Homo sapiens: one gene and its partner. The protein of the gene in region 1 interacts with the protein of each later gene in a pairwise test. Each region holds a gene or a part of one and is shown in the gene's direction. Other genes may lie near its edges.

The links.
Region 2: the proteins of ASCC3 (region 1) and SKIL interact in a two-hybrid assay, tested with the Homo sapiens proteins (one large-scale study listed by BioGRID and IntAct).

The regions. Positions count from the first base shown.
Region 1 is NC_000006.12:100,647,274-100,651,101, reverse strand, and holds part of ASCC3 (activating signal cointegrator 1 complex subunit 3), read left to right. Parts: intron 1-387; coding exon 388-564; intron 565-3,650; coding exon 3,651-3,828. UniProt on the Homo sapiens protein: ATPase involved both in DNA repair and rescue of stalled ribosomes. 3'-5' DNA helicase involved in repair of alkylated DNA: promotes DNA unwinding to generate single-stranded substrate needed for ALKBH3, enabling ALKBH3 to process alkylated N3-methylcytosine (3mC) within double-stranded regions.
Region 2 is NC_000003.12:170,360,677-170,364,504, forward strand, and holds part of SKIL (ski-like protein), read left to right. Parts: coding exon 1-753; intron 754-3,828. UniProt on the Homo sapiens protein: May have regulatory role in cell division or differentiation in response to extracellular signals.

The DNA.
Region 1 (3,828 bases):
AATGAATGCATTTGAAGATAATTCAAGTTGCCCTAATCCAGTTGGGCAGAGGTTTTACTCTGGTCAAATAAAATATGAAATCTCATCAATTCAAGGATGGTGAGGTCAGAAGATTTAATTTTTTGGCATATCAAATTTTTATATGTCAATGGCAAATTTAATATTGGTGATGAATAATAAAATGTAATTGTATCAGCCTCAAGATCATTTCATATTGCAGTTTTTTAGCTACCTATGGAAAAATCATTGTTATTTAACTCTATGAAAGAAAAATGCTGCATTATAGTAAATGGAAACTCTTTAAAAACATGCAATGTATTTAATTTCAATGTGAAAAATTTAAATAAATCAGCCCCAAAATTCCAATAAATACATTGATTCTTCTAGGTCAGAGAAGAGGAAATAGAGGAGTTAGATACCTTATTAAGCAATTTTTGTGAACTCTCCACTCCTGGAGGTGTAGAGAATAGTTATGGGAAAATAAACATCTTACTTCAAACTTATATCAGCCGAGGAGAAATGGACAGTTTCTCCCTTATATCAGATTCTGCATATGTTGCACAGGTAAGTATCTTATTCCCTTCCAGTTTTCTCTTCCTTGAATATATTTAGAGGACCAAGGTGTTAATTCATGCTGTGCTATGAATGCATTGCTTTGTGACATGCTACCAAACCACCATTTTACTTAGAACTGTTTCTGCTAATTTGTAAATATTTTATGTAATCTATGCTCATAAAACAGGACTGGGGATGAGATTTGGTGACTGATAGGGCTTTTTTTGGTGATGTTGATGTTTCTTACAAAGTTTTAAAATGATACCTGATTTTTTTCTACTTTAAATGATGAATTTCATTTCTTTTACTTATAAAGTAAAAGAATATAAAGTACTTATAAAGAGAAAAGTTAAAGAATATTGCAAGCATAAAGAAAAGATTGTGGAACTTTTTTAGATTTTTACCAAATATTAGAAATAATAATATTTTTAATCATTAAACAAGGCGTAGTAAACATATTTCCTACCATACGTTCAGTGTGATGTCTCTGGTTTTTACAAAAGTAATCTCTCCTCTCTACTGTTGAAACTTAAACATTGAGGACAGAAAGAAAATTATTCCCTAAACTACAGCTCATTTAATTTATAACTTTTAAAAAATACCATGGTATAAACTGTTCAAATATTTGTGTTTTTATATTCAAGCCCTTATGTGAAGTAAAGTAGGTTATATTTTACCCTATTTATCCTTCAAATGAAAGATTTCCCTTCTAGACATACTTTTTTAAAAAAATTATTTACCTGTCAAGGCTTTTTAATTTTATTTTATTGAGTACTTCCTTTTATAAATTAAGAAGAAATTAAAGCTTAATTTTATTTTAAATATGGAAATGATTCTGCTGTTATATTTGTAATTTTGTTCAAAGAAAGACTAAATATAGAAAAAGAATGTTTGTGTTAAATATATCATTATTAATAGCCATGAGTACTCAGGAGTCCTTTAAACATGGAATATTTACAAACACAAACCAAGACATATTGGTAAACATTTTGAATGCATGTAGTAATTTAATCAATGTAACCAAGATACCAGGTTATATAATTCATAAATTATATAAAGTTAATATAGATGTAGTGAAAATATTTATATATTCTTTAAACCCTATAGCTTCTATAGGAATAATTTTCTAATCTCCTTTGTTTTATCTGTTTTTCTGTAAAGTAATGTAATATTGTCATTTTATATTTTCTAATGATTTTATATTGAAATAGTTAATCATTTAAATAAAAGGTAAAGTTTTACTGGGTTCTGGATGAATAATCTGGCAACATTTCTGCTTGCTTCAAGATTATGAAGATATTATCAGAGACTGACATAAGAATTGCTTACAATGTAAAACTTTAATTCTCTTCATGATTGGTATCCAGGAAGTCAACTTCTGATTAAGGATATCTCAAAGCATCCCTGTTTTTTCTTAAACAGCCATTATGGATTTAGCATCCCTGAATGCATCAGATAAATTATACTTTATTACATTTTAAGTTTAAGCTATCAGTAATTGAACAACTACTCTCTCAACTCTGTAAAATGATATTTTCTTCTATATTTTTTAAACTTTCTCTCCTCAGCCCCTAAGGTAAACCTATAGCTCAAATATTCTAGGATTTTATTTAAAGGCCTATGCTTAACTTTTCTAGACTGTACATGTTATAGACTTATTATTTTGAACCAATTTATATCATTCTAGATTAACATGTCCTGTTTGTATCTTGTCATATGGAATTTCTCCTACTTCTTTTAGCATTGAGGGGATAACTGTAGATCCTGAAATATTAAAATGACATACTTTCAAAGGCAGGAAAATTAGCCTGATAGTTTTTTGTAAGAACAAGTGGGAATGAGGTAGGAAAACCTATTTGGTAGATACAGTAATCAAAATTTTATTTATTATTCTCTGGGCCTTATAAAGACCCATTCAGTCATTTTTAATGGATATCAGAACTGTCCTCATACTTCTATCTACCATTTTGTACTTTAATTTCTAATACTGAAACAAAATAGTCAAATTTATCAAAAGACAGCGCATATCTTATATAAAATGTGAAATGAAAGCCTTTAACTCATCTGTCATTTTTGACTTCATAATTTTAGGCTGGATTGTTTGTCTGCCATTTGAAATCTTTTCAGTTTTGTATCTCTTGTTTGGATTTTAACCAGACTGAACATTCTTTATTTTCAAATACAGATGTTACTGGATTTTGGAAGGTATAAGTTCATTTAAAAAACAATCTTTAATAAAACAATCTGCAAAGTTAATGATAGAGGAGTGGAGGCAAAATAAATGGGAGCTAGCTGTAGAAATGTGAAGAAAAAGACTACATTCATTATAACTTTCTATATGTCTATTAATAAAGTTATCCTCAGACCACTGAGTCTAGAATCTCAGTTATATTTGGAGTCCTTTAGTCCTGGCTTTGAGTAGATGCTCTGACACCAACTAGCAGTGTGACCTTGGTCAAATTTTTTACCTCTTTAAGCCCTAGTATATTCATCTATAAAATCATAATATTAATATCAATTAAATGCAATTTTTGTAAAAGTTAAATGAGGCAATATATGTAAAGCAAGTTAACACATTGTTTGGTTTATAGGAAGCCATTTGTATGGCCCTTTCATATGAGTAGCTACACTAATCAGTATTTCATTTGTCACCCTTCTCTCATTATTTTTTTTCCCTATCAGGATCCCAGTCTTCCTTAATCCTCTAAATAGCCTTGTAAATTTAATCATTCCACTATTCACCAAGAGGCGTCCTTGTCTCTTATAGTCAGATGCCTTAACAGCCTCCTAAATATTTTGCATGCCTTTTGTCTCTTCCTACTTCATTCCTGTTTAGAAGGTAGAGCTTTCTAAGAACTTGGAAATAAGGCTTCCCCTCTGAGAGTAAGCAAGTAGCATCCACATATAAAGGATAGGATTATTCTTATGTAGAAATAATAAGATAATTAGGATTATATGAGAAAAGATATTGCCCCACAATTCAAGGATGCAGCTTGACTTGCACTTCTTTTCAGACTGAGTTTGAATAATAGATTTATTGACAAATTTAAAAGCACATTGGGTATAACCACCAATCTCCTCCTATAATTTTTTAGAATGCAGCTAGAATTGTCCGTGCTCTTTTTGAAATTGCTCTGAGGAAACGTTGGCCTACCATGACCTACAGGCTCCTGAATCTTAGTAAAGTCATTGACAAGAGGCTTTGGGGTTGGGCTAGCCCTTTGAGACAATTTTCAATCCTACCACCACACATCCTAACAAGATTAGAAGAAA
Region 2 (3,828 bases), on another chromosome or scaffold:
ATGTCGCCTACTGTATTTCTGCCTCTTCCATCACCTCAGGTTCTTCCTGGCCCATTGCTCATCCCTTCAGATAGCTCCACAGAACTCACTCAGACTGTGTTGGAAGGGGAATCTATTTCTTGTTTTCAAGTTGGAGGAGAAAAGAGACTCTGTTTGCCCCAAGTCTTAAATTCTGTTCTCCGAGAATTTACACTCCAGCAAATAAATACAGTGTGTGATGAACTGTACATATATTGTTCAAGGTGTACTTCAGACCAGCTTCATATCTTAAAGGTACTGGGCATACTTCCATTCAATGCCCCATCCTGTGGGCTGATTACATTAACTGATGCACAAAGATTATGTAATGCTTTATTGCGGCCACGAACTTTTCCTCAAAATGGTAGCGTACTTCCTGCTAAAAGCTCATTGGCCCAGTTAAAGGAAACTGGCAGTGCCTTTGAAGTGGAGCATGAATGCCTAGGCAAATGTCAGGGTTTATTTGCACCCCAGTTTTATGTTCAGCCTGATGCTCCGTGTATTCAATGTCTGGAGTGTTGTGGAATGTTTGCACCCCAGACGTTTGTGATGCATTCTCACAGATCACCTGACAAAAGAACTTGCCACTGGGGCTTTGAATCAGCTAAATGGCATTGCTATCTTCATGTGAACCAAAAATACTTAGGAACACCTGAAGAAAAGAAACTGAAGATAATTTTAGAAGAAATGAAGGAGAAGTTTAGCATGAGAAGTGGAAAGAGAAATCAATCCAAGGCAAGTTTTTTATATCAATTTTTAATAATGGTAATGGTTTACTTTGAAATGAAAATTCTATGTTTAGTGTGTAACTTAACCTGTATGTTGAACATTGCTCATGCAACAACAACAAAATACCGATTGATATATTTGTATTGCAGTTTTTAGGCCATAAAGTGCTTTGCAGTATGTTTCCTCATTTGACTTTCCAAACATCCTGTGAGAGAAGTAAGACTATTATTCCGTTTTACAGATAAAGTGAATGAAGCTCAGAGAGATAAAATGACTTTCCCAAAATTATGTAGCCAGGGAGTGGAGGAGTTAGGGCTTCTTTTTTTTTTTTTTTTGTGCTTTTAGTAGAGGCCAGGTTTCAGCATGTTGGCCAGGCTGGTCTTGAACTCCTGACCGCGTGATCCGCCCACCTTGGCCTCCCAAAGGGCTGGGATTACATCCTTGAGCCCCTGTGTCCAGCCAGGGCTTCTTTTTCTTATCCTCTTTGGCACACATCTTGCTTCTTGACCACTACATCTGTTGTTTTTCTAGGACTCGATAATTTGCGCTTTGGTGTTATCTCCATTTGCAAATGGTACAATGGCCACAATTCCCGTGGGCTCAAAACAGCATTTTTCAGAGATACACCTATGATTTCTGATGTTTCTATGTTTGGATATTCAGGCTTGCTCAATATTTGAAACAAATGGAAAAGACATGTATCTGAAGAATTTGTGATTTGAAAGGAATAACAAAAAAAATGACAGCTAGAGTAAGGAAAAGTTATTTTAAACTAATAAAATATTAATATAAAAACCTGCCGGGCTCAGTGGCTCACACCTGTAATCCCAACACTTTGGGGGGCTGAAGTAGGTGGATCACCTGAGGTCAGGAGTTTGAGACCAGCCTGGCCAACATGGTGAAATCCCATCTCTACTAAAAATACAAAAATTAGACGGATGTGGTGTCGCACACTTGTAATCCCAGCTACTCAGGAGCTGAGGCAGGAGAATCGCTTGAACCCCGGAGGCGGAGGTTGTAGTGAGCCGAGATTGTGCCATTGCGCTCCAGCGTAGGCGTCGAGGGAAACTCCATCAAAAAACAAAACAAAACAAACAAACAACCTATCAACAGGTGGGAGCAATGAATGGCTCACAATCCCAGCACTTTGGGAGGCCCAGGTGGGCAGATCACTTCAGGTCAGGAGTTTGAGACCAGCCTGGCCAACATGGTAAAACCCCATCTCTACTAAAAATACAAAAATTAGCCAGGCATGGTGGTGTGTGTTTGTAGTCCCAGCTACTTGGGAGGCTGAGCCAGGAGAATCGCTTGAACCTGGGAAGCGGAGGTTGCAGTAAGCCGAGATCACGCCACCACAGTCCATCCTGGGCGTCAGAGTAAGACTCCATTTCAAAAAAAAAAAACACAACCACCTATCAGCCAAGGTATCATAATTTTATTTTTCCTGCTGCATTATCTAGTAGGCTAAACTATTATTTTCATTCCAAGGTTTTGAATGCCGAGGTAATGGACAAGATTGGGATTATTAAATATTTAGTTTCTTGATCGGGTTGTTTTATATTTTTTCCTATTTGACTAAAATTAATGTGTAATAACAGTTCCTAACACTAAGTGTTTAAAATGTGGCAAACATTATTCTTGAGCAGTTTTACATATATAATTTTATTTAATTCTTAACAAGAGGTTGGCTGTGTTTCATTTAGGAACTTTGAATTTTTCCACTATTAGTTTTGATTCCTTGAAATATCCTTGCCCATTTCTATTTTACAGAAGAAATGAATAAAGCATATTAAATGACTGACTGAAGGTTTATTCACAGCAAAGTTAGAGCTTGGACTAGTCCTTAAGACTTGGGATCCTGAGCTTTATTCTGGTGCCTTTAAGGTTTTGAGGGAAATTTAGTTAACAGTGTAGTTTAAGACATTGGTTAAGCCTAATGAAGATAATAATTTTAGACTCATTTATGGTAGTTTGCTGCTTGCTGCTTCCAGAAGACCAGCACTTTGAAATTTCTTGCCAGTGGCTGCTAGATAAGTTTATATTCTTCAGGTGTAGTTATTAACTGATTTTTTTTTTTTTGAGACAGAGTTTCGCTCCTGTTGCCCAGGCTAGAGCTCAGTGGCGCGATCTTGGCAGATTGCAGCCTCCGCCTCCTGGGTTCAAGTGATTCTCCTGCCTCAGCCTCCTGAGTCACTGGGATTACAGGCATCAGCCACCACACCCTTTAATTTTTGTTATTTTTAGCAGAGACTGGTTTCGCCATGTTAGCTAGGCTGGTCTCAAACTCCTGACCTCGGGTGATCCACCCGCCTTGGCTTCTCAAAGTGCTGGGATTACAGGTGTGAGCCACTGCTCTCGGCCTATTAACTAATTTTAAATCAGGATTGACTTCAAGCCAGTGCTCAGTGTAGAACTTGCTTACAGTTGGACTTGTCCCGTGCTGAAGTTTGTGCTCAGAGATTATATTTCAAAATGTGGAATGCCCCTTTTGATATTTGTGATATCTTGCCCCCAAGCTAATTAGGTGCTGTACTTTTTTTTTTGTAGAGACAAGTCTTGCTCTGTCGCCGAGGCTGGAGTGCAGTGGCACGATCTCGGCTCACTGCAACCTCTGCCTCCTGGGTTCAAGCAATTCTCCTGCCTCAGTCTTCCGAGTAGCTGGGACTTCAGGCGCCCACCGCCATGCCCAGCTAATTTCTTTTGTATTTTAGTAGAGAGGGGGTTTCACCATGTTGCCCAGGCTGGCCTCGAACTCCTGAGCTCAGGCAATGCGCCTGTCTCTGCCTCCCAAAATGCTAGGATTACAGGCGTGAGCCACCATGCCCAGTGGTGGTCTACTCTTACATGTCTGTTGGAGGCCACATTTGCCAGATATTGTTGCTCCCGTCTTTTTTTTTTTTTTTTTTTTTTTTTTTTTGAGACAGAGTTTCGCTCTTATTGCCCAGGCTGGAGTACAATGGCGCGATCTCAGTTCACTGCAATCTCCACCTCCCAGATTCAAGTGATTCTCCTGTCTCAGCCTCCCAAGTAGCCGGGGTTACAGGTGCCCACCACCATGCCTAGCTTGTTTTTTGTATTTTT